Homo sapiens: one gene and its partners. The protein of the gene in region 5 purifies or fractionates together with the protein of the main gene of each other region. This does not show direct contact. Each region holds a gene or a part of one and is shown on either strand. Other genes may lie near its edges.

Region 1 (4,674 bases), on a different chromosome or scaffold from region 5:
TTCCACAGATAGAGTCTGGATCACTGTCCTCAGAGATGGAAGATTCTACAGCCTTGAACAAAATCTGAATAGCTTTAGAATTTTTCACGTTAGACACAGCTTCTGTACTTTTTAAAGGAAAGTAAGCATGATGGCAAGCTGTTGCCTCTTCTAGTCTACCTGACAAAGTCTATGGACTTTAAGTGATCCGATTACATTAAGTTTGACCTTTAAGGAAAACTGAAATCTACTTCCAAAATGAAATTAGTTTTACTTTCTAGATTGCACTGGAGAAAAAATATTTCCAGCCTCACTTTCAAGACTTCTTTTGTCATATGAAATTCTTAAAACAACATTGTTTTCTATTTATTTTATTAAAACTATGTCACGAGGCACTTGTGGGCAGGAGGTGATTTTGAAAAGACAAATAACTTAGGATGTAGTAAATAGTGGTAGATTTATAAGACAGACATATCCACTGAGACCATTTGTCACTATCTGCTAAAAACAAATGTGTGCAGAAGTTAGGAAGTGGTTAGGAGGGAAGGAAGACAGCTCTGGAGACAAAATCTGTAGTCAGTCTCTGGGACAAGCATATTTCTTTGGGCATATAGCTGTTTTTTCAAGGGCGTTAACCTTCAGAGACCACAGGCTGGCAGCAGTGAGGTCTCTTCCTGCCTAAATGTGCAATGATTCCCCTATCACCCATCAGGCCTCCTCTTACACAGAAAATAACTGGCATCAGCTTATTTCCGCACTTGTACAATGCTCTACAATTTTTGAGCCTCACAGTTTTGTAGATGTACATCTATGTATCGCTATCACATTGTAAGATGGGAGGTGAGGTGGTTGAACGCTTGGGCTGTCACCAGATTGCGTGGGTTCCTATTCTGCCTTCACTACTTACTGGGATGTAGGTACTGCGGGATAATGGCAATACCTACACCAAAGGACTGTTGTGAGAGACAAGATAAGATGCAAAGCATTCAGCTGGAGGACTTGTTAAGCACTCAATAATGTTACTCACTATTAGCTATTATTTTTGTCTTAGGACAGTGTTTCCTCAAGTGGATCCCAAGCCTAGTTTCATAGGCAATATTTTACATCATGAACCGGTATACACATATACACTTATGTAACAATAATGCAAATAATAAATATGCATATATGCTGCTTATTACATATGGACTGAGTGGTGCAGAGTTAGGATTTGAACCTAGGGGTCCGGGGTCCTGTTTTTCTAGTGTTGTTTTTTTTTTTCTTGGAGGGGGGATTACAGGCACACATCACCACACCCGGCTAATTTTGTATTTTTAGTAGAGACGGGGTTTTGCCATGTTGGCCAGGCTGGTCTTGAACTCCTGACCTCGAGTGATCCACCCGCCTTGGCCTCCCAGAGTGTTGGGATTACAGGCGTGAGCCAACGTGCCCAGACTCTCTAGTGCTCTGAACCACTACTCTCCACTGCCTTGTGGCCTGGTACTTGTTATACATGGAGGAGCCAAAGTTTCATCAAACACTAGTAACCGTCAATAAAAAGGATGCACAGTGACCACTTCTATTAGACATTTTATTTCATCAAGAAAAATGCTGATCCTAACCTGCTCAATTGATTTTATGACCCAAGACATGTAATTTGAAAAATACTACAGTAAGTGTTGTAAGAAAAATTGTTTTGAAAACACTAACAGCCAGGCATGGTGGCACACGCCTGTAGTTCCAGCTACTTGGGGGGCTGAGGTGGGCGGATCCCTTGAGGACAGGAGTTCAAGAATGCACTGAGCATTCTGGGTGACAGAGTGAGTGAGACTCTGTCTCTATTAAAAGAGAAAAGAAAAGAACAGAAAACAATAACAATAAAAAGTTAAATAAGTATATGTATCTCATCTTAGAGGCTTTACCATGCTATTGTGCATTATAAATCTCCAAAAAAAAATAATAAAAAAGATTATATGGAGCATTTATTCAAGCATCCCCATCACCCTATGGGATGGACACTAATTTGGGAAATGTTATCAGGGGGTGTTAATATCTTCAACACAGAGATAATTTGGGAGTTATTTCAACCTATAATTAGTAGGCACAAACATAGTCAATAAATTTTTAAATAATTGATTGAGGAAGAGTCCCTTCCAGAGGAGGGGAACCCCCAGGACCCTGAGCTCTGGCCTGGAGAGAAGTACCCTAGATGCCTATGCTGGGTGCGGGAGCATCACTCACCCAAGAAACATGAGAGGCAGTGTCTTGTAAAACAGTCTAATTAACAACATGTCCCTCTCCATGATCAAAATAATGGGTTTAATCAAAGCAAATTAGTTTAAAAATGGAAACAACATGCTTGATGCTAAATCAAATCCCATTTTAATGGCTTTACTAAAAATAATGGTAGGTTACACCTTAAGTGGATTTGGTAATCTCCACAGGCTAGACTTGAGCAAGAGGATCTGGGTTTGAAACCTAAGAGAAAGAAACCAGACAAGAAGGGCAGAAACCAACAGAGGCAGAGGCTTCAGCTGCTCCTGGAGCCAGGGGTACCCATTTGTCAGACTTTTCACAGGGTCTCTGTGATTGTAATCAAGGGAAGAGTGCGAGAGTTGTGCATCACTACCTACTTCCTACCTTTCTCTGAACCTCCTCTCCCTTGAAAAATTGAAACGTACAGAAACTGACTCTAAGAATACATGATCTGTAATGTGCAAAAGAGCAAATAAGCCCAAGTTCATGAACACCGACACGAGGGGCCAGGCATCTAAACAACTCTGGGTGATGCTTATTATTGAGGCTAGCAGACACATAGAAATTAAAAAGAGAAACAGTTTTTAGAGTAGGGTTGAACTTCAGCACAAAATATCTTCTTCAGAGCAAGTACAAGTGGTTTTTCTTTTCTTTTTCTTTTTTTTTTTTTTTTTGATATGGAGTCTAGCTCTGTCGCCCAGGCTGGAGTGCAGTGGCACGATCTTGGCTCACTGCAACCTCTGCCTCTCCCGGGACCAAGCGATTCTCCTGTCTCACCCTCCCTGGGATTACAGGTACCTGCCACCATGCGCAGCTAATTTTTTTTTGTATTTTTAGTGGACACAGGGTTTCACTGTATTGGCCGGGCTGGTCTCAAACTCCTGACTTCATGATCCACCCGCCTCAGCCTCCCGAAGTGCTGGGATTACAAGCGTGAGACACTGCACGTGGCCTCACAAGTGGTTTTTCATAGCAATAGGATTATGAAGTCAAATCTCAATTCTGGTATTATCAATGCCAATTGCCACTTTTTTTTTTCTAATTAAAGGATAATTGCCTTTAAATGCTATCTCTCTAGGAAATATGGGGAGAAAATTCAGAACTATACTGTCCAATATGGTAGCCACTAGCCTCATGTGGCTATTTAAATTAATTACGGCTAAATAAAATTTAAAATTCAGTTCCTCAATTACACTAGCCCACATTTCAAGCGTTCAATAGCCACATGTGGCTCATGGTTATCATACTGGACAGATTACAGAACATGTCCATCAATGCAGAAAGTTCTTTTGGACAGCACTGATCTAGAAAAGGCTGTTTATAGATGCCAAAAAGGAAAATATTAATTTCTCACTTAGTAAAAGAGCTTCAAGCCCTACCTACCAAAGCTGGTTTGACTCAGAATAGTTTGGGGCTGAATTTGAAGGCTACTGCCAAAGATTTCACGATTATCTCAAAATATTCTAAATGGCTGATCTAAAATCTCTTTGCATGATGATTGATTTTCCATTGCCACAAGTTGTCTTTCAAAATCTAAACATACCAGAAAAAAAAAAAAATCTAAACATACCAGGAAATGATATTTGGTGATAACAATAACTTAAAGTTCCAATAATTTATGAACAAGTTTTAAAATACTTAGAACAACTATGAAAAAATATAAAGCTACATGGCACCATCAGCTCCAGGAGTAAAAATTTATAGTTAAAATAAGTAGGGGCTGTCAGGCTTCTGAGCCCAAGCTAAGCCATCATATCCCCTGTGACCTGCACGTATACATCCAGATGGCCTGAAGCAACTGAAGATCCACAAAAGTGAAAATAGCCTTAACTGATGACATTCCATCATTGTGATTTGTTTCTTCCCCACCCTAACTGATCAATGTACTTTGTAATCTCCCCCACCCTTAAGAAGGTTCTTTGTAATTTCCCCACCCCTAAAAATGTTCTTTGTTAATTCTCCCCACCCTTGAGAATGTACTTTGTGAGATCCACCCCCTGCCTGCAAAACATTGCTCCTAACTCCACCGCCTATCCCAAAACCTACAAAAACTAATGATAATCCCACCACCCTTTGCTGACTCCTTTTTCGGACTCAGCCCACATGCACCCAGGTGAAATAAACAGCCTTGTTGCTCACACAAAGCCTGTTGGTGGACTCTCTTCACACGGACCCATGTGACAGGGGCTGGGCACAGTGGCTCCTGGCTGTATTCCCAGCACTTTGGGAGGCCGAGGCGGGTGGCTCAATTGAGGTCAAGAATTCAAGACCAGCCTGATCAACATGGTAAAACCCCGTCTCTACTAAAAATACAAAAAAAAAAAAAAATTAGCCAGGCATGCTGGTGGACGCCTGTAATCCCAGCTACTTGGGAGACTGAGGCAGGAGAATCGCTTGAACCCAAGAGGCGGAGGTTGCAGTGAGCTGAGATTGTGCCACTGCACTCCAGCCTGGGCGAGA
Region 2 (4,674 bases), on a different chromosome or scaffold from region 5:
TTTTTTTTTTTTTTGAGGCAGGGTCTTGCTCTGTTGCTTAAGCTAGAGTGTGGTGGCATGATCATAGCTCACTGCAACCTTGAATTCGTTTGTTCAAGCGATCCTCCATGTCAGCTTCCTGAGTAGCTGAGACTGCAGGCGTGTAGCACCACACTCAGCTAATTTTTTAAAAATTTTTTATAGAGATGGGGTGTCTTGCTATGTTGCCCAGACAGGTCTCAAACTCCTAGGCTCATGTGATCCACCTGCCTCACCCTCCCAAAGTGCTGGGATTACAGGTGTGGGCTACCGTGCCTAATCATATTTCCTTTAAATTAGATTAAAATTCAATTTAACTTAGCCTCATTTTAAGTAACATCCGTGAAATCATGTGATATGCTTGTTCTATTTTTGCTAATACATTACTATTAAAATAAAAAATGTTCTCCAGTGCACCACTGGAAATCATCTTGCAGGCCAGTGGTACAGGAAACTGCTGTAGAATGACTGTCTTCACCTACATATGCCAGCGGGCTTGTTCAGTGACCCACACCACTCCTTTCCCCACTCTGGCTCTGTTTTCAGTGCCTCTCACTTACTAGTGCTGGGCACCTAGTTTTGGGGTCACTGGAAGGTGGTAGGATCAGAGTGGTAGCTTCTGGGCAGAGGATGCATTGAAGATAGAAGTTGAGTGCAGGTGATGGGATGTGCTGGAAAATTTTCCACCCTCACCCCTAAATATCCCCCAGCAGCTAGCCTCCTCAAGCCTCCTCTGATGAACAACCCTCCCTCCCATCCCCTTCTCACACCCAGCACCGATGCCTCGTTCTCTCCGGATGTCCCTTATTCAGACCTTGTGTGTGTTATGCCTTCTCCTCCGACTGGAAGCTTCCTGAGGGCAGGGATGGTATCTCCTCCCTCCCAGTCCTCAGGAAAGGACTCTTTAGGGTAGAGAAAAGGAGCCGGTGAGGAGAGGAGATGCTCCGGAGATGGGTGGGCTGCATACCTGGTTGCCGCCAAGGCCGTGGCAGGAGTACATGATGAGGGGCTTCCCCCCGCGGTTGTTCTCACCCACATCCAGGCATTGGTTGGTGCCGAGGTTCTTGATCTGCAGAAGGGTGAGCAGAGAGGGGAAGCAGGATGGCACAGTCAGGAGGTTCCTCATGTGTGGTATGGGGCCCCACTGGAACAAATTCCAGTCAACTGCAACAAATTTGCATGGCTGGATTTCCCCCGTCATTTCTCTCCTCTGTGCGTTAACCCACATGCCTGGAGCTAACAGCAAAGTGAGCTGCAGAGCCCCAGAGGCTGGAAAGGGCAGGACTGAACCCCTCTGTGGGGCAGGCAGGGAACCTCCCAGGATGCCAGGTCCCTGGAAGAAGCCCTCAGCACGTGGGAGTTTCCTTATAAGCAGTGGTTCTCAAATGTGAGCCCTGGACCATCAGCATCACCTGGAGACTCGTGAGAAATGCAAGTTTTCAGACCTCCCCTGAGTCCTTCTGAATCAGGAACTCTGGGGATGGGCCCTAGCGTTTTACCGTGCCTTCCTGGTGATTCTGATGCATGCTAATGTTTCAGGACCACTGCTTGTGGGTTGTTTTGCCCTTTATAAGGTTTTTTGCTATCTCTAGAAGCCCCAACGTGGCCTCTCAGTCCTCCTCCTGGATAAAGGAGGGTGCAGGGCAAAACTCAATTCTTGTTTGTCATCCATCTGTGGGGTCAGTGGTCTTGAACTTCTCCAAGGGGTGCTGTGGTGATGGGCAGGCAGGTTGGTTCTCAAGACTTACGGCACCATAGAAGGTGGGCGTCAGGTCAGGAACAAACATCTCTGGGTAGACATTGTGCAGGTACCAGGAAAAGTTGTGACAGTGCAGTTGTTCCCTCAGCTGCAGTCGTTCCGAAATGTCACCGAAGGATTTCTGTCAATCAAGCCAGCCCCCTAAGGATCAGTTCCACCAGTTTTTTTTTTTTTTTTTAAGAGGGAGTCTCACTCTGTTGCCCAGGCTGGAGTGCAGTGGTGCAATCTCGGCTCACTGCAACCTTCCCCTCCTGGGTTCAAGCGATTCACCTGCCTCAGCCTCCTGAGTAGCTGGGACTACAGTCGCGCACCACCACGCCCAATTAATTTTTGTATTTTTAGTAGAGATGAGGTTTCACCATGTTGGCCAGGCTGGTCTCAAACCCCTCACCTTAGGTGATCTGCCCGCCTCGGCCTCCCTAAGTGCTGGGATTACAGGCGTGAGCCACCACACCCAGCCAGTTCCACCAGTCTTTGACCTTCCTGTCTGGGCTGAAGTAGTGCAGATAGCATGGAGCGCCTGGGGCTACTGTCTCTCATGTTCATTCCCACTCAGGACCTGTTAAAGATACTGGCCCAGCCCTCACATCCAATCCCAAAAACCCCGCCTTAGCTTTGGAGTCCCCTGCTTATCGGTCCATCTCCTGTGACTCCCCAGACAATTATGTCCCACTCCCCAGTGCCGAGGCTCTCAGAGCCATTCCTCCAAAGCCTCCAAAGCCTCCGTAAGAGGCTTTTCCTCCAAATCTCCTTTCCCTCCCTTCCCCTCCAAAGGGATGCAGAGACTCTATGCGTAGGGACAACATTCTCTAGCTTTTGAAACCTATGTGCCTTGTGGCCTTCTCCTGGGCTCTAGCTCACAGGTCCCTGAGGGTGAAGGGAGGCGCCAGATGGTAGAGATGAGGTGGGTCCCAGCCATTAGGCCCATGAACAGGGTCTGGGGGCCGTACTTCTCTTCATCTAAACCTCTCCGAGAACCATTTCCTCTCACCTCTTGGGCCATCTTTGCTGCCTGCAGATTTCTCCTATAGAAAATCTTCTTGTAGCTGTCCATCCAGACCTCTGCCAGGCGCACTTGATTGCGAGCAATGACACTAGTGCCCTTGGGGAAGGTGTGGGGGCTCTTGGTCCGGAACACATGGCCTACGACAGAGCAGGGGATGATCTCCAGCTGGCCCCCACACTGCCACACCTGATGTAAGAGGAGACAGGATGAGGCCTTCAGTGGGCTAGGTGAGACAGTCTCCCCATAAGCAGCTCTATTCTATTCCCAGAGCACCAGACCCCAGGTCCAAGGACTTGGGCAAATGCTGCTCTCTCTCCCTGGGAAAAAGGATACCGACCAGGCTTCTTCCTAGGCCATGACTACACGATCCCAGGCTTTCTGATGTTGGTTCACTCTGACTTAAGCACAGGGAGACTGCAGGGTCCTGTGTTTACCAGGGCCCACTTTAGGGAAAAGCCTGCTGGTTAATTTTTGTTACCTGTGCCTGTATACCTACTCTGAGCTCTGATCACTTGGCTTTTTGACCTGGAAATGTGAGTTTATCAGCTCCCTCAGGTGATAAAAACCAGAGCATCAGTCTGTTAATTAATAGCAAGGATAGTTGGCTGCTAGGTGGCTAGTGGTAGTCACTTGGGCCCTTAGCACACTGGCTGCCTAGGAAGGTGAACAGAGGTCAGAGGCTCATGGAGGAGCCTAGGATTGGGCCGCTGGGAGTTGGGGTGACTGGCAGGTGACCCTTTTCTATGCTGGTGGGCTGGCTGAAGACATCCCTCCCACTGGTTTCTTCTTTTGGGTTTTAGGTGGGAAAGTATGTTGTTATTCATTTTAGTGTGGCAGCAACAGAAATACATAATCGTTATAGTAACAGCAGGCATCAATTACGTGCTTAATATGCATCAGGCACCGTGAGAGGTGACTTCATAAATGAGCTCATCTACTTACTAATTACTTTTCCATGGCATGGAGATTTGTGTAGGTTTCATGGAGAGGCAATCCTTGCTTCCTGACCTAATCCTGATTTGCCTAATTCCTGGAATCTCTCAGAGTTCTGGGGTCCACCAGAGTTGGGGCCACCATCTTCTCTGACTGTTATGAAGGGCTTATTGTACATAGGTAGGGAAACTTCAAAGGTTACCAGGGCATGTGTCCTTTGAACTGGGAAGGGGAGCCTGATTTTTCCAGAAAAAGGATGATGACTGGTTACTCATCTGTTTTTTTTTTCTAGCCCTAGTTGTGAACATACTAACCTGTTTCTATCTTCACCCTAACCCTTTCCCACAGACATCGCAAAAGAGTCCCCAGTCACCAGATGTCCAGTCCTCATTACCCCTATTATTCCTTGCCTCTGAGAAGTTGTGCCCAGTAGTTTGTTTTGAGCTGTCCAGGCTGACTGCCCAAGCCCTACTGCCATGGACAGGGGGAGCAGAAAAGAGGAAGAGACACACTGGGAAATAGCCACCCTTTCTAGTTCAGTTCCAGATGGGATGTCCCTGATGCCACCTCTGCCTGAGAGATGTTTCTCAAGCTGTCGCCTGGGATGTTGTGGTTCCCCCCAAAGCCCTCTTCACTCTCACCCGGAAGGACATTTCCACGTTCTCCCCTCCCCAGATCTCCATCTGATTATCATAGGTACCGATGTGCTCAAAGTAGGACTTGGAGATGGAGAAGAGGCCACCAGCAAACGTCGGGGATCTGGAGAGACAGAGGGAGAAGTGTGTGCATCTTCTGGGAGAGGAGGAGCGGAGCCTGGCGGGGAAAGCTGTTTGTGGACTCCCCTCCTAACCCACCTCCCCCTCCTTTCCTCTTTCTCAGGACGTGCAGCCCCTCATCCACTAACTCACTCATCATTTAGCTTTTACTATGTCCTCTTCCCCTTCTAGGACCAGGTCAA
Region 3 (4,674 bases), about 33 Mb from region 5:
AGCCTTTTTTTATCTAAAATAATTCATTTGTGTCTTATTTATTTCAACAACAGCTTTAAGCTCCTAGAACACGCTGTGTCAAGCACTATGCTAACCAGGTACATTCAGAAAAGCCTGATACAATATAATAAAATGCCCTCAAATAATTCAAAGCCCAAGTATTTTGTATGAGTCAATGGAGAGAAAGGGCAGTCATGGCAGCAAGAAATGTAACTGAATATCTAAACTATTGAGAAATTGTGATATAAGGCCTTTCATGGGTCCTGTGCTCCTGCCCAACTCTTACATCTGCAAAGTTTAAATGTAGAACTTGGGGTGATTTTTCCACGGAGCACACATGATGTTTCCCCTAAAATGAGAGAGGATTTCTACCAACTAAAGATATTCTAATTCCTACATCAAAAGTTCATTGAAACTTTTTTTTTTTTTTTTGAGACAGTCTTGCTCTGTCGCCCAGTCTGGAGTGCAATGGCGGGATCTCAGTTCAACCCAACCTCCGCCTCCCAGGTTCAAGGGATTCTCTTGCCTCAGCCTCCCCAGTAGCTATGATTACAGGCACCCGCCACCATGCCCAGCTAATTTTTGTATTCTTAGTAGAGACGGGGTTTCACCATGTGGGTCTTGAACTCCTAAGCTCAGGTGATCCACCCGCCTCGACCTCCCAAAGTGCTGGGATTACAGGCGTGAGCCACCCATTGAAACTTAATATGGAGGAAAGCACTGTGTTTGGGGTTGGAAGGATATAAAGGGAATCAAGTAGGATCTCTGCACTCTGGTAGTTTGATGCCTTGTCCTCATGGGATTCACAGAGCAGTCAAGGAGACCAAAATAATTGCTCGCTAGAGGTAGAAACTTCACATTTGGAAGCACAGAGAATCAGGAAAACTCTAAAGTGGAAGCAAAAAGTTTCAGCTCATTTTAAAATTTGATTCTAATTTCGACGAGCGATCGCTTGAGATGGAAGTGACATCCATCCTGTCCTACAGGGCAGGCAGATGCAGCTTGTTACAGGAGGCCAGCTTAAGAGAAGATGAGAATTGATTTCCTTACAGAGCAATGTTAACAATTTTGCAACTTAATTGTAATTCTTAAAGTCAGATCATTTAAGAGCGGAGGAAAAGATTTTTCTGGAGAAGAAGCTCAATTTAATAAATCCTTTGCCGAGGGATTTGCTCAAACTTTTGGTACTCACCCAAGCATTTGTCTGAAAAGAGTTTTGTCTTCTCTCGCCATTGTTGCAAGATACTGGTAAGGAAAGCTGTTTGAACTTCCTCAAAACATCAACATTTAATACTCCTTAAGTTTCCAACAGGAAAACGAGGTAAGTTAATATTTTCCCATGTTGATACATAATTGAATTAGAGTTTTACTTAACTTAATAAATTGCCACCTGGGGTAATAGAACCATGAACAGCACTTAATTTCAGGTCTGCATTAACTGTGCTTTCTCACTGCCCCGGTCTGAGTGCCTGTTACCACGGCTCCCAAAGGCATCAGGGTAAGAAAATCATTTTCAAGAAAGTTCTGGGAACAAACTGTGTTAGCTTGGGGAGGCTGAAGGTGGGAAATTAGGGTCATGTTCATGCCTGAGTGCACTGTACCATAACACACACTGTGGTTGTAGTTTATATTATAATACGTCAAGACTAAGGAGGTACTCCCGGCTCAGATCAGGTAGTCCTCTGCAACTATCTAGACCAGCGATGTACAGTGCATCTCCAGCTTTATATTGCTGGGAGGAGAACTGGACTTCCAAAAGTTTTGATGTAACTTCACTCATGAAGATTTACTATGCTCAGTTCCACTGGTGAAACCCTTTATGAAGAACTCAGAAAGGTACGCTTCGGTTTTTGTCAGATTTGTTGGCAATCTCTCTGTGCCACCTGCCTTCTGTAACCTTTAGATAAGTAAACCCAGGAGTGGTGAAGCCTGATCTCTCCATCAATCTCAAGTTACTATTGACTCAAGGTTCATTCTAACTCCACCATAACCCAATTTTTAAAAACAAAAATGTCTTTGCTGAGATAATAAAGAAGAAACATCATGAGTTTCTACAAATACCTTCAAAAGACAGAATCCAAACAGAGTAAGAGTATAAGGGTTTGGGGGTTTGTTTTCATATTTTCTAAAATGATATAAATAGGTAACAAAGACATTGAGTAAACTCACCAGGAGTTGGATTAAAAAGTCCTTATATTTATTATACAGTATCTATTATATCCACAATAAAAAATGAAGAGAAATTGTTGTGAAGCAAATCTTTACTGAAAAACAAACCTTCAGCAAGAGGTTCAAGAGATTCCCAAAGGAAGGAATTTAAATGTTGTTTAAATTTAGGCTAAATAAATCCAGAGGGCTATTCCTAAGAGAACCAGGGCTTAGTGAGGACTGGCCTGCCTGTCTCTGGTCATTTAACCTGATTTTTTATCATCTTACCATTGCCAGCCTTCTGCATTTCCTAGAACCAGCTGAATTTGCCAAAAGAAGTATTAAAGGAAAAACACACTAACTTTGCAAATTAAGAACTGGTCTTTGCCTTCTTTATGTTTTGAAACTCAAAACAGACAAATTTTCTATTTTTAGTAGACTAAAAAGAGTACCCTAGAAATGACCTTTACTTTCAATACCTGAACGAACCAAGCGTAGTGATCCTAGGAGGCTGTTATCAGCCCACATTTAACTGAAATTTTCTTGATACTCCTAAGTCTTAGATAACTCTTTCAATATTGTATCACTAATTCCTAACATACAATCAATGAATAATCTGCAGAATGGCATGTGTGAGTGTATAACACTGAATAAATTCATCTAAAATATACATATTTATAACTTAGTAGTTACACTTTCTAGAAATTTCCCCTTGTTTTGAAAAGAATAGCAGTAGCAACAGAGGCAAACTGGCCTATGACTGATGTTCTAGGAGAGAACAGAAATTTACCACCCAATGTCTTTGCCAGTAGGGTGGAAAGAACAAGATTTACAAAGTTGGCTATACACCTTTAAATGAAATTATATGATCTACAATTCAATGTAATTTTACTATCCCCACACAAGATTACCTGGCCTTCCGCATCACACTTGGCATGTTAAGGAAGTGGGGGCAGGAGGCACAAATTTGTCAGTAACCTACTATACTATTAGACACAGTTAATTGTCTATCATTGCATGTATAATATTACATCAAAAGTCTCCCTCAAAGCAAGTTGTTATTTCATTTGATAAACTGCAGCCCGGTTCATTTTTATCTGCCGCCTGTACTTCCCAACTTGTATGTCTCTCTACTGAGTCCTTCCATAAAGCCATATTTCATGTCTTTGAAAAATGATCTTTACATGCATTTCTCTAGTAGTATAATGTCCAATGATTTTTTGAAACAAAATTTAAATTGGTTGAAAGAGCCCCATAACATCATGATAACTAGGAAAAAAAGATAATAATTAGAAAAGAAATTTTCATACTTTTTATGAGTAAGCAAACCAGTTTGTTCAGACTCTCAACATTACAAGTTGGCGGGTGGCGGGGAAACTAGTACTTTCTACAGTAAAGATACAACAATACATCTTATTCACATGTGTGCAATACAGACCAGGCAAAAGTTGAATCTCAGCTCCTCATTTATATTAATACTTCTGTGACCATGAACAATTTGCTTAATATCTGGGGGTCTCTGTTTTCCCATGTGCTAAACGGGGAATATAAAAACTACTTCACAAGATTGTTGTGACTATTAAAAATGCAATGCAATCTAAGCTTCTAAAAGAATACCAAGGAGATATTAAATGTTCAGTAAATGCTAGCTATTAAATAGAAAGTCTCACACTGACACTTCTATCTGAGAAAACCAAGAATTGAAGCTCTGTTTTGCTTCCTTCACTCTGTGGTGTCCAGCCAAAGCCTTTTGTGTCTGTGAGTAAACAGGAAAGTGCCCAGAAAACACCTCAAATAATTGAAAGCCGGTTTGACTTGAATGGAGGCTTAGGTCAAATTTGCTTCCAAGTTTCATGGATTAGTGCTAATTGTCCCTTGGTGTCAGCCTAATTTTGCCCATCAATAAATTACTGGTTCACATTTTTGGTGGTGTTCTCAAAGGCAATTCAGCCTACATTATTCAAGACGGATTACTTCAAATGCAATTTGAAAAATGGGGAGAGAACATAATAGTTAATCCTTAGAAAGAGAATTCGCAACAAGATTGTAAAACGTTTGGTTAAATACTAGACTCAGGATGTCGAATGCTGACATGCCAAGTACAGTACTTTCCAAGTAGGGAAATTCAGGGCAAGCTGCTCATTTCCCTGGACCTTCTCCTTCACTCTCACCTCCTTTCTCTTTCTATGAAAGGTTCTCCCAGCCTTCCAATCACTGCTGCTATCCAACTTTGGCCACCATTTGGAGAGCAGGTTGGAAACAGGATGGGCAAGATTGAACAGGAGGAAGGCCATGCTCCCATGCATGTGAAAAGACCATGGACACACACAAAAGCACACTCAACTGCATCTTGATACCTCCCAAAAGCAAACTCCTGCAGAGAACTTCAGGATGAACATATGTTTGCTTCATTACGGAGCTTAGGATATTCTATACCTATCTGAACTTCTGAACTATACAGATCAGTTAGACGGCTTCAAATCATCATGGTGCTTTTTTAGGAATTCCAAATTACTGATGCTATAA
Region 4 (4,058 bases), on a different chromosome or scaffold from region 5:
GGAAGATAAGTACTAAAGATAAAGCTAATTCCTGGGCACAGCATTCAGTAAAAGAAAATAATTCTACCTGATAATGACATTCAAAATTTTTTAACAATTTTGAAATTATTACTGCTTCTGAAAAGTTGATGGCTTATATAAAAATAAAAAATATGAAACAGATTTAAAAAATTCTTTATATTATTCTATTCTCAGTATTTGCAACTAATATAACTCAATTCAAAACAATATATTACATTGTTAGCATAGTTACCCTTCTGGTAGAAGGTAAAAAATAAACAAATGAATGAATAAATGAATAAATTGTAAAAATCAGAGACATGTTTCTATTAAAGGAACTTATAAATACCACTCAAATAAGATAAAGTATATGAAACCATTTTGACTAAGTATTAAACTGTTGGTATAGGCATTGATTGTTGAGTGAAAGGGTATGGATTAGAACTCTGGCTTTCCCCTAGATGAACTGTTTGTCTTTGAGAAACTCATCTGATCCCTCAGTGTTTCAATTTCTTCATCAACATCAAGCAGGGATAGTATTAATATTTTCCATCTTGCAAGTATGAATGAAATTAAATGAGGCTGGGCACAGTGGCTCATGCCTGTAATCCCAGCACTTTGGGAGGCCAAGGCGGGCAGATCACCTGAGGTCAGGAGTTCAAGACCAGCCTGGCCAACACGGTGAAACCCTGTCTCTACTAAAAATACAAAAATTAGCCAGATGTGGTGGTGGGCACCTGTAATCTCAGCTACTCAGGAGGCTGAGATAGAAGAATCTCTTGGACCTGGGAGGCGGAGGTTGCAGTGAGCCAAGATCGCACCATTGCACTCCAGCCTGGGTGATGAGAGTGAAACTCCATCTCAAAAAAAAAAAAAAAGAAAGAAATTAAATGACTACTCACCCAATTGACCACATTGCACTAAAAAGACCTGATACAAGTCCCAATGTACTTAATCCCTCTTCAAACCCATTTTCACTGCAAAAAGAGACATGAGTGTATCCATTATTAAAAGGAAAACCTGTGTGAAAGAAAAAATTGTATGATAGATCAATTAAGATAAACCAAGGATAATCTGGAAAAAAACCAACAGCAAGAATACTCTGCTTCTAAGATAAAAAGCAAATCTTATTTAAAAGAATTTTCATAGTTACATTTACTCCATGGTTTTCTAGAAATAATTTTTCTGCATATATATATGATATTAAGAAGCATGGCTCATTTGCATTAAATACTTATAAAAATATATAATTAAGAAATTCTTAAAATGAGATGAAGATGGAAAGAGAACAAAGGCAACTTTTAAAAAACAGAGATAGTTCCTTATTCCCATGAGAACTATTGAACTGACCCAGCACAGCCATAGTACTTAGTGTTCTTCATCATCATGCCTATTAAACAAAAGAATGATGACCAGGTGACAGATGCTGGTCACTCTAGGCTCTCTCATGGACCTCCTCCATGAAAGAGGAACAATGCTGAGACCTATCTATTTTGCTTTAGCTTTTCAAAATTACTTACATACTGAGGCATAAACCAAGCCAGACATCTGTCCACAACCCATTTTAGCTATTAATGTACTATTATCATTTCTATTAGTGTATTATTACTATTTATATCATAATATCATATGCTACAAAATCATGAAGATTTAACATTGGGGCAAAAATATCCAACATGCTGCAAAATTGAGAAATTCAAGAAAGCCTGTGATACTTACTACTTATTCACAATACAGCTCTTCAAGCAATGGAAGTAACTTACTGTGCACAACTGAGAATTTCCGGGAAAGTTGGAATTATACTCATTCCAGCAGAGAGGCCACTTACAACTAATATCAGCACCAGCAGCCAGAGCTGACTGCAAAAGGGTTTTGGAGAAAACAAATACAAAAAGAAAAACATTAGCGTTTTAACAAACACAAAGCTTAATGCTAAGGAAGTGAGGATCCCTGATAAGTTATTTCACCGATTATGTGCCTAGTCTCATTCCCTTTCCCATCTAACCCATTTCATTCAGTTAGAGTGTCCTTTAGCTCCTTACAGTTTTGGGGGCGGGGGGGTGGGGGGGAATTCATCCTGATATCTCCATCTCTTTGGTCCTTTGGTTACACATATCACATATCTGGAGCCAACCTGGCTTCTTCTCACCAGACAAAATCCCTTCAAAATTGGTGAAAACGTCAGTACTAAAACTGTTCTTTCAATCACTCGGCTTTGAACTTCAATTAATTTAAAGATGGCATAGAAGGAAAGAGGTAAAAGAAGAGTCAGGAAACACATTTGTTCCATGTGAGGAGACTATGCCAGTTACTTAATATATGTTACCAGATTTAATCCTTGTAATGTAAGTACTATTATCAGCTCCTTTTTGTAGATGAGAAAACCGAGGCTCTTGGAAGTTAAGTGGTTTGCTTATTAGTACATGGCAAAGCCAAAATGTAAACTCAGGTCTGAAGGACTCTGAAACCCCTTCCTTTCCAGGTTACTATGTTTTATCCCAGAAGTACCTGAAAAGGTCTAAGAAGTTCAGTTTATTTTAGCAACTAAATTACATTAAGCAAGGTCTAATAAGCAGCTACTACATGCTAAGGATGATACAGAAAGAAAAATAGATTTGGTCCCTGCCTCAAGGAAAAAGAAAAGAAAAAAAAAACAAAAATATATTCTAAGAACTATCAACTAAAGGTAAGTAGCAACAAATTCTATTTTAAAAATATAACAAAAGTATAAACAAGTATGTACAATTGAAATACAGAAGGAGAATATGCATTTTTGTCATTTGAGACAGATTTTATGCATTTTTTTCTGTTGTCCCACTGCTAGCTTCTAGTAGGGTAAAATATTGTCAGCCTAACAATTCAATAGAGTCCTAAAGTTAATTATTTAAATATTAATGTTCAAAATACTAAACTATACCAATGTTAAAACAAAATTTTTCGAAATAATTCCTAATGTTATTTGGCCAAACATACAGAAGAAGAAAAAAATTACCTTTTAATATGCAAGATTGGGACAGGCCCTAAGAGCATGTAGCACCCGGCTGTGATTAAGTTGCCAAACACCAGAAGCCATTTCCTTAGAGGCTGGTAAAGGAGAAAGAGAGTCAAAATGATTCTTAGAGGCAAAGACCCTCCATAATCAAACAACGTAAAACATTAGTAAAAAACACAAATCATGATATTCAAAAACCCAAATACAATGAAGAAAACAAAACTTTACATTTAAAAGAAAGTAAGGAGATGATAAACTCGCAAGCAATGACGATATATAACAAGGCAGAAAGTGAACAAAGGACAAAGATTTCTTAGCAGGGGAGTGCATTGCAGATCAGATTTTGCACATGATGAACTATTACAAATATAACAACGAAAAAACTCATTATAAAAAGCAGTAACCGGCCAGGCACGGCGGCTCACACCTATAATCCCAAAACTTTGAGAGGCCGAGGTGGGAAGATCCCTTGAGCTCACAAGTTTGAGACCAGACTAGCCAACATGGTGAAACCCTGTCTCTATTAAAAAAATACAAAAATTAGCTGGGCAGGGTGGTGGACATCTGTAATCCCAGCTACTCAGGAAGCTGAGGCAGGAGAATTGCTTGAACCTGGGAGGCGGAGGTTGCAGTGAGCCAAGATCACACCACCGTACTCCATCCTGGGCAACAGAGCAAGACTCTGTCTCAAAAAAAAGCAGTGACCACAAAAAAAACCCACCAAGTATTAATAGTTACAATACCTAGAAAAATCACATTATTAAAAAATTACCTGCTAGAGACTGAATGCTTATGTCCCCCCAAAATTTATATGTTAAATCTTAACACCCAATGTGATGGTATCTGGAGGTGAGCCTTTGGGAGGTGATTAGTTAATGAAGGTGCAGCCTTCATGAATAGAATTAGTATCCTTATACAAGAGGCCCCAAAGAGCTCCCTTGCCCATTCCATCATGGTGAGGTTAAAGTGAAAGATGACAATCTGTGCGCCAGGCAACAGGCCCTCATCAGACATCAAATCTGCCAGTGCCTTAATCTTGGACATGTCGGTCTCCACAATTGTGAGA
Region 5 (4,096 bases):
TAAAATTAGGAGTGGAAAATACCAGAACCATTGATTCCTTCTGCCTCCTACTGTGATATTATTTGCAAGAAAAATAGTTTGAGAATTTTAAAGTATTTAACACATTTATATATATAGATATTTATGTATTTCAATATATGGTAGAAGCTTAACTGAAAAATTAACTGATTTATTTTTAAAAACCATTTACTAAATATCTTTCCAGAGTCTTAAATCCTGAAGGTCAAGACTTTTAAATCTAGAAGGAGTCTCAGGCAAAGATTCTATAGGCTTAAGAAATACCTAATTACAAACATGTACTACTTGTGCAATTCATGTATTTTTTCCAAAGTTATTTAGGAAAGAAATCCTGATTTAAAATGGTCTCCTGTGAATGTTAGATTTAAGAAATTTAACATTCCCTTGCATGCTATATGGTTCCTTATATGGTTTTTGAAGATAATATCTCCAAATTGAGGCTCAGGGAACTGAGGGCAAAACTGCCAAAAAGGGAAGCATAAGTAGCTACTGTCTGTATGGGGTTAAAAAGTATGTTGAGAATGTCTTTAACACTTACAGGGCTACCACGAGGTCCAGCTATACCTGGAAGTCCGGGGGCACCACCTTCACCCTGGAAAAAGAGAAGCCATGTCACTGTCTTGCATCCAAAAGAGAGAGACATTTTCTTTTTATATCCAGGTAGTATTAAGGGTTACCTTATCTCCAGGCTGGCCAGCTGGGCCAGGAGGACCAATAGGACCAGTAGGACCCTAGAGGAAATAAAAATATTTTTTAATTTTGAAGATACAAATATCGTTTTTTGCATTAATCAAACAGAAAGTATATAGACATAGATACCTAATAAACTAGATAACATACTTTTTAAAAATTTTTATGGCTTGAATGCTATGCTTTTCTCTCAATGTGTAAATACTGCAGAGCTCAGTAAACACAAGCCTCTTTGGGGATAACTCTGGGAGAAAATAGGATTCAGCAATAGTTTATTGATTCATTTATCTTTATCTCCATTGTAGAAGATAAATAGGATGTCATGTAAGATCTTACAGTAATGTCTTTTTAAATTAAAGTACATTTCTTTATTCAATTGCTTGATAATTTAAATGTTTTCTCAAAGTCTCATTGTACATATTAAATTTTTCAACTTGAAATTTTCAAATAGTAGTTTTACTTATATTACAAAACTGAAGTATTGAGCACTCTTTTTACCTGAATGACGGCTTATCTACTTAGTCTGTCAAAAGCGAAGCATTTATGAATTTCTTTAAGGCAACTATTATATAAATTTATTAAAAGACTTAATTATAATCATATTTAGGAGATGTTTTTTGTTTTGTTTTTGACTTTTAGTTTGAATTATAGATTCATAGGATGCTGCAAAGGAATATACAGGGAAATTCTGTGCACTTTTCTCCCAGCGTCCCCTAATGTTAACATCTTACACAACTATAATATAATATCAAAACTAGGAAATTGACATTGATACCATCCATAGAGCATGTTCAGATTTCACCAGTGATACACACACTCATTTATGTGTGTGTATATGTAGCTCTATAGAATTTTATCCCATGTGTAGATGTGCCTGACTACCACCTCAATCAAGATACTCAAATGTGCAATCACCATAAGACTCCCTTGTGTCATGTCTCCATAGCCACATCCATCTCTCTCTTTCTCATTCTTAACTGCTAGCAACCACTAATCTGTTCTACATCTCTACAAGGAAGTTATTTTGCAAATATTGTAGGAATGGAATCATGCAGTATGTATCCCTTGGTGACTGAATTTTCTTCACTGAGTATGTTGTCCTTGAGGTTTGTATAATTTGCTGTGTGTACAGCATCAATTGTTCATTCCTTTTTGTTGCTAAATACTATACAATTTTTAAATATTAAGTCTATTAATGAGGAGTACTTACTATATTGAATTTTGATGACTTTTAGTTTCTTAATGAGCAGCATTGATTATCCTAAATTTCAGTGATTATCTCAGATTTTAGTGACTCACAAATGCTAGTTTGTGACCTTTATCGTACTCTTGAGGCTTTTTCATTCTTTAGTCACTGTAGATCTATCAAGTAGCCATAGATATAGACCACAAATTTCATTATAAATCAAGTCATTCGGGTCTTTAGGTGGTAAAATATCTAATTTCTCTTGAGTAGTTTTTGGAAAAAATTAAAGTTGAAGTGCAGGACTGTCCCATATGACATATAGATAAGGCCTGCTTCTCCTCACTGGGAATACTCACCCTTGGGCCATCTTTCCCTGGGACACCATCAGCACCTGGACCGCCTGGTTCACCCTGTCAAATAAAAGCCAATGTCATCAGATTCAAAGTATCTTCAGTGAAAATCAGCCAAGAAGAGGAGTAACTCTCAGGATTTGTAGGGATATATATTGGGTGTTCTAATTCATTGTTGCTTTAGGAATCCATCTTAAATTTCACTTACTATAAAATGATAACATTAATTTTGAAAATACAGTCGATTACTTTCCAGGAGTGTTGCTTTTTTTAAAACCTACAATGACTGATTTATTGAACAATTAAGAGAAAACAAGTCAACACCTTGTCACCCTTTGGACCAGGACTTCCAAGACCTCCTCTTTCTCCAGGCATTCCTTGCAGACCAGGAGTACCAGCAGCACCAGGTGGCCCAGGAGGACCAGCAGCACCCTGAAAATAAGTGAGAAATAATAAATGATCAGAAGGAAATCAAATGCATTTTTTAAACCTAGGTGAATGGAATGCTGTGGAGTTACCTTTCCTCCTTCGGGACCAGGGGGACCAGCTCCACCTCTAAGTCCTGGGGCCCCTGCCAATCCAGGAGGTCCACGTTCACCAGGGGCACCAGCATCACCCTGTGACAAAAATATGTAAATAACCATATTAGACAACCCAAAGCTAAAAACAAAGCACCTTAACTTGCATCATTTTGAATCAGGCCACTAGGTTATTATATTGTGAACAATCTAGAAATTTGTATACTTAAAAATAGTTGAACAGCTGGGTGGGAACTAGAAGCTTAAAAGAGTGTCTAAAATAAAACTTGGATACTTAGTCTGGTTAAGTGTGAGCTGTCATTGAAATACTTATTATTTTATTCACAAGAGCAACATTTTAAAGTTCTTTTTACCAAAACAGTTTTCCTACATAGAATCAACATATTGGCAATATTTTTCCGTTTGAAATTTTAAGCCCGTATTTGATTCTGTAGTGATTATGAATGTCAGAGAATTGGACCTTCCAGATTAAAGCAAATTTAATGTATTGAAAGTGTCTTGAGTTTCTCTAAGTGTACTTACCAAACATTTGCAATGATGCTCTTTTAAAGAAAGAGTATTTTGGCTTGATATACTAAAAATATACTACTAATCAATTGCTCTATAACCTGCTGAAGAAGGTAGAGAATAAATTGAAATACTACCTTGCCTCCTGGAGCTCCAGGTGCACCGGCATCACCCTTTGGACCCTGGGAGATTGGCATTATATGATTAGGCCCATATCAGAGTGCATTTTATGTAAATATAAGCAAATATGTAAATATAAGCAAATATGTAAATATAAGCAAAATACACATTTGTCATGTTGGCATACTGTATAATTTTTCAAATCTTGAAACTATGAACTCTCTATTTTATGGTAAAATTCAAACTCTATATAATAGTTATCTTTTAAATAATTTGTCTTTGTTTTGATAATATTTCAAAACTAAATGTTAAATCTCAAATATCATGGCATAAGAAAATTAAGAAGTTAATAGTTGACAAACAAACAGTGTGTATTCTTTTTGTTTCTGAGTTTTGAATAATGAAACGTAACTTACTGGTTCCCCAGGTTTTCCATTTTCTCCTGGAGGACCACCTGTACCAGGCAAGCCCTAGAAAGAATCATATTTGTATTAGGTAATTACCTCAAACATGGCTTATAGAAAAGCTTCTCATATGTACACATGTTTCTGCAAGATATTAAAAAAAAGTTCCAGTGGTCTTGTAGGGGTAGAAACGTTGTGCCACTCAAAATCCAGTGACACATACGTGATAATCATATTTTACAAACCCATTTTCATCTCTCTCTGTTCTTTCAATTGCTACAC

Evidence for each region.
Region 1: the proteins of COL3A1 (region 5) and TMEM150C fractionate together in Homo sapiens (co-fractionation; one large-scale study listed by BioGRID). This does not show direct contact.
Region 2: the proteins of COL3A1 (region 5) and GALNT6 fractionate together in Homo sapiens (co-fractionation; one large-scale study listed by BioGRID). This does not show direct contact.
Region 3: the proteins of COL3A1 (region 5) and PAX3 purify together in Homo sapiens (affinity purification with mass spectrometry; one large-scale study listed by BioGRID and IntAct). This does not show direct contact.
Region 4: the proteins of COL3A1 (region 5) and SLC18B1 fractionate together in Homo sapiens (co-fractionation; one large-scale study listed by BioGRID). This does not show direct contact.

The regions. Positions count from the first base shown.
Region 1 is NC_000004.12:82,554,864-82,559,537, forward strand, and holds part of TMEM150C (transmembrane protein 150C), read right to left. Parts: intron 1-4,674. UniProt on the Homo sapiens protein: Nonselective cationic channel with high permeability to Ca(2+). Component of a mechanosensitive cation channel, confers mechanically activated (MA) currents with slow inactivation kinetics. May contribute to proprioception.
Region 2 is NC_000012.12:51,356,364-51,361,037, forward strand, and holds part of GALNT6 (polypeptide N-acetylgalactosaminyltransferase 6), read right to left. Parts: intron 4,476-4,674; coding exon 4,358-4,475; intron 2,970-4,357; coding exon 2,769-2,969; intron 1,899-2,768; coding exon 1,767-1,898; intron 1,088-1,766; coding exon 986-1,087; intron 1-985. UniProt on the Homo sapiens protein: Catalyzes the initial reaction in O-linked oligosaccharide biosynthesis, the transfer of an N-acetyl-D-galactosamine residue to a serine or threonine residue on the protein receptor. May participate in synthesis of oncofetal fibronectin.
Region 3 is NC_000002.12:222,221,992-222,226,665, forward strand, and holds part of PAX3 (paired box protein Pax-3), read right to left. Parts: intron 3,430-4,674; exon of another isoform or gene 1-3,429. UniProt on the Homo sapiens protein: Transcription factor that may regulate cell proliferation, migration and apoptosis. Involved in neural development and myogenesis. Transcriptional activator of MITF, acting synergistically with SOX10.
Region 4 is NC_000006.12:132,771,230-132,775,287, forward strand, and holds part of SLC18B1 (MFS-type transporter SLC18B1), read right to left. Parts: intron 3,085-4,058; coding exon 2,993-3,084; intron 1,860-2,992; coding exon 1,764-1,859; intron 1,021-1,763; coding exon of another isoform or gene 1,008-1,020; exon of another isoform or gene 978-1,007; coding exon 903-977; intron 1-902. UniProt on the Homo sapiens protein: Proton-coupled polyamine antiporter involved in the translocation of polyamines from cytosol into secretory vesicles prior to their release via exocytosis.
Region 5 is NC_000002.12:188,998,050-189,002,145, reverse strand, and holds part of COL3A1 (collagen alpha-1(III) chain preproprotein), read right to left. Parts: intron 3,881-4,096; coding exon 3,827-3,880; intron 3,473-3,826; coding exon 3,428-3,472; intron 2,862-3,427; coding exon 2,763-2,861; intron 2,677-2,762; coding exon 2,569-2,676; intron 2,305-2,568; coding exon 2,251-2,304; intron 750-2,250; coding exon 696-749; intron 611-695; coding exon 557-610; intron 1-556. UniProt on the Homo sapiens protein: Collagen type III occurs in most soft connective tissues along with type I collagen. Involved in regulation of cortical development.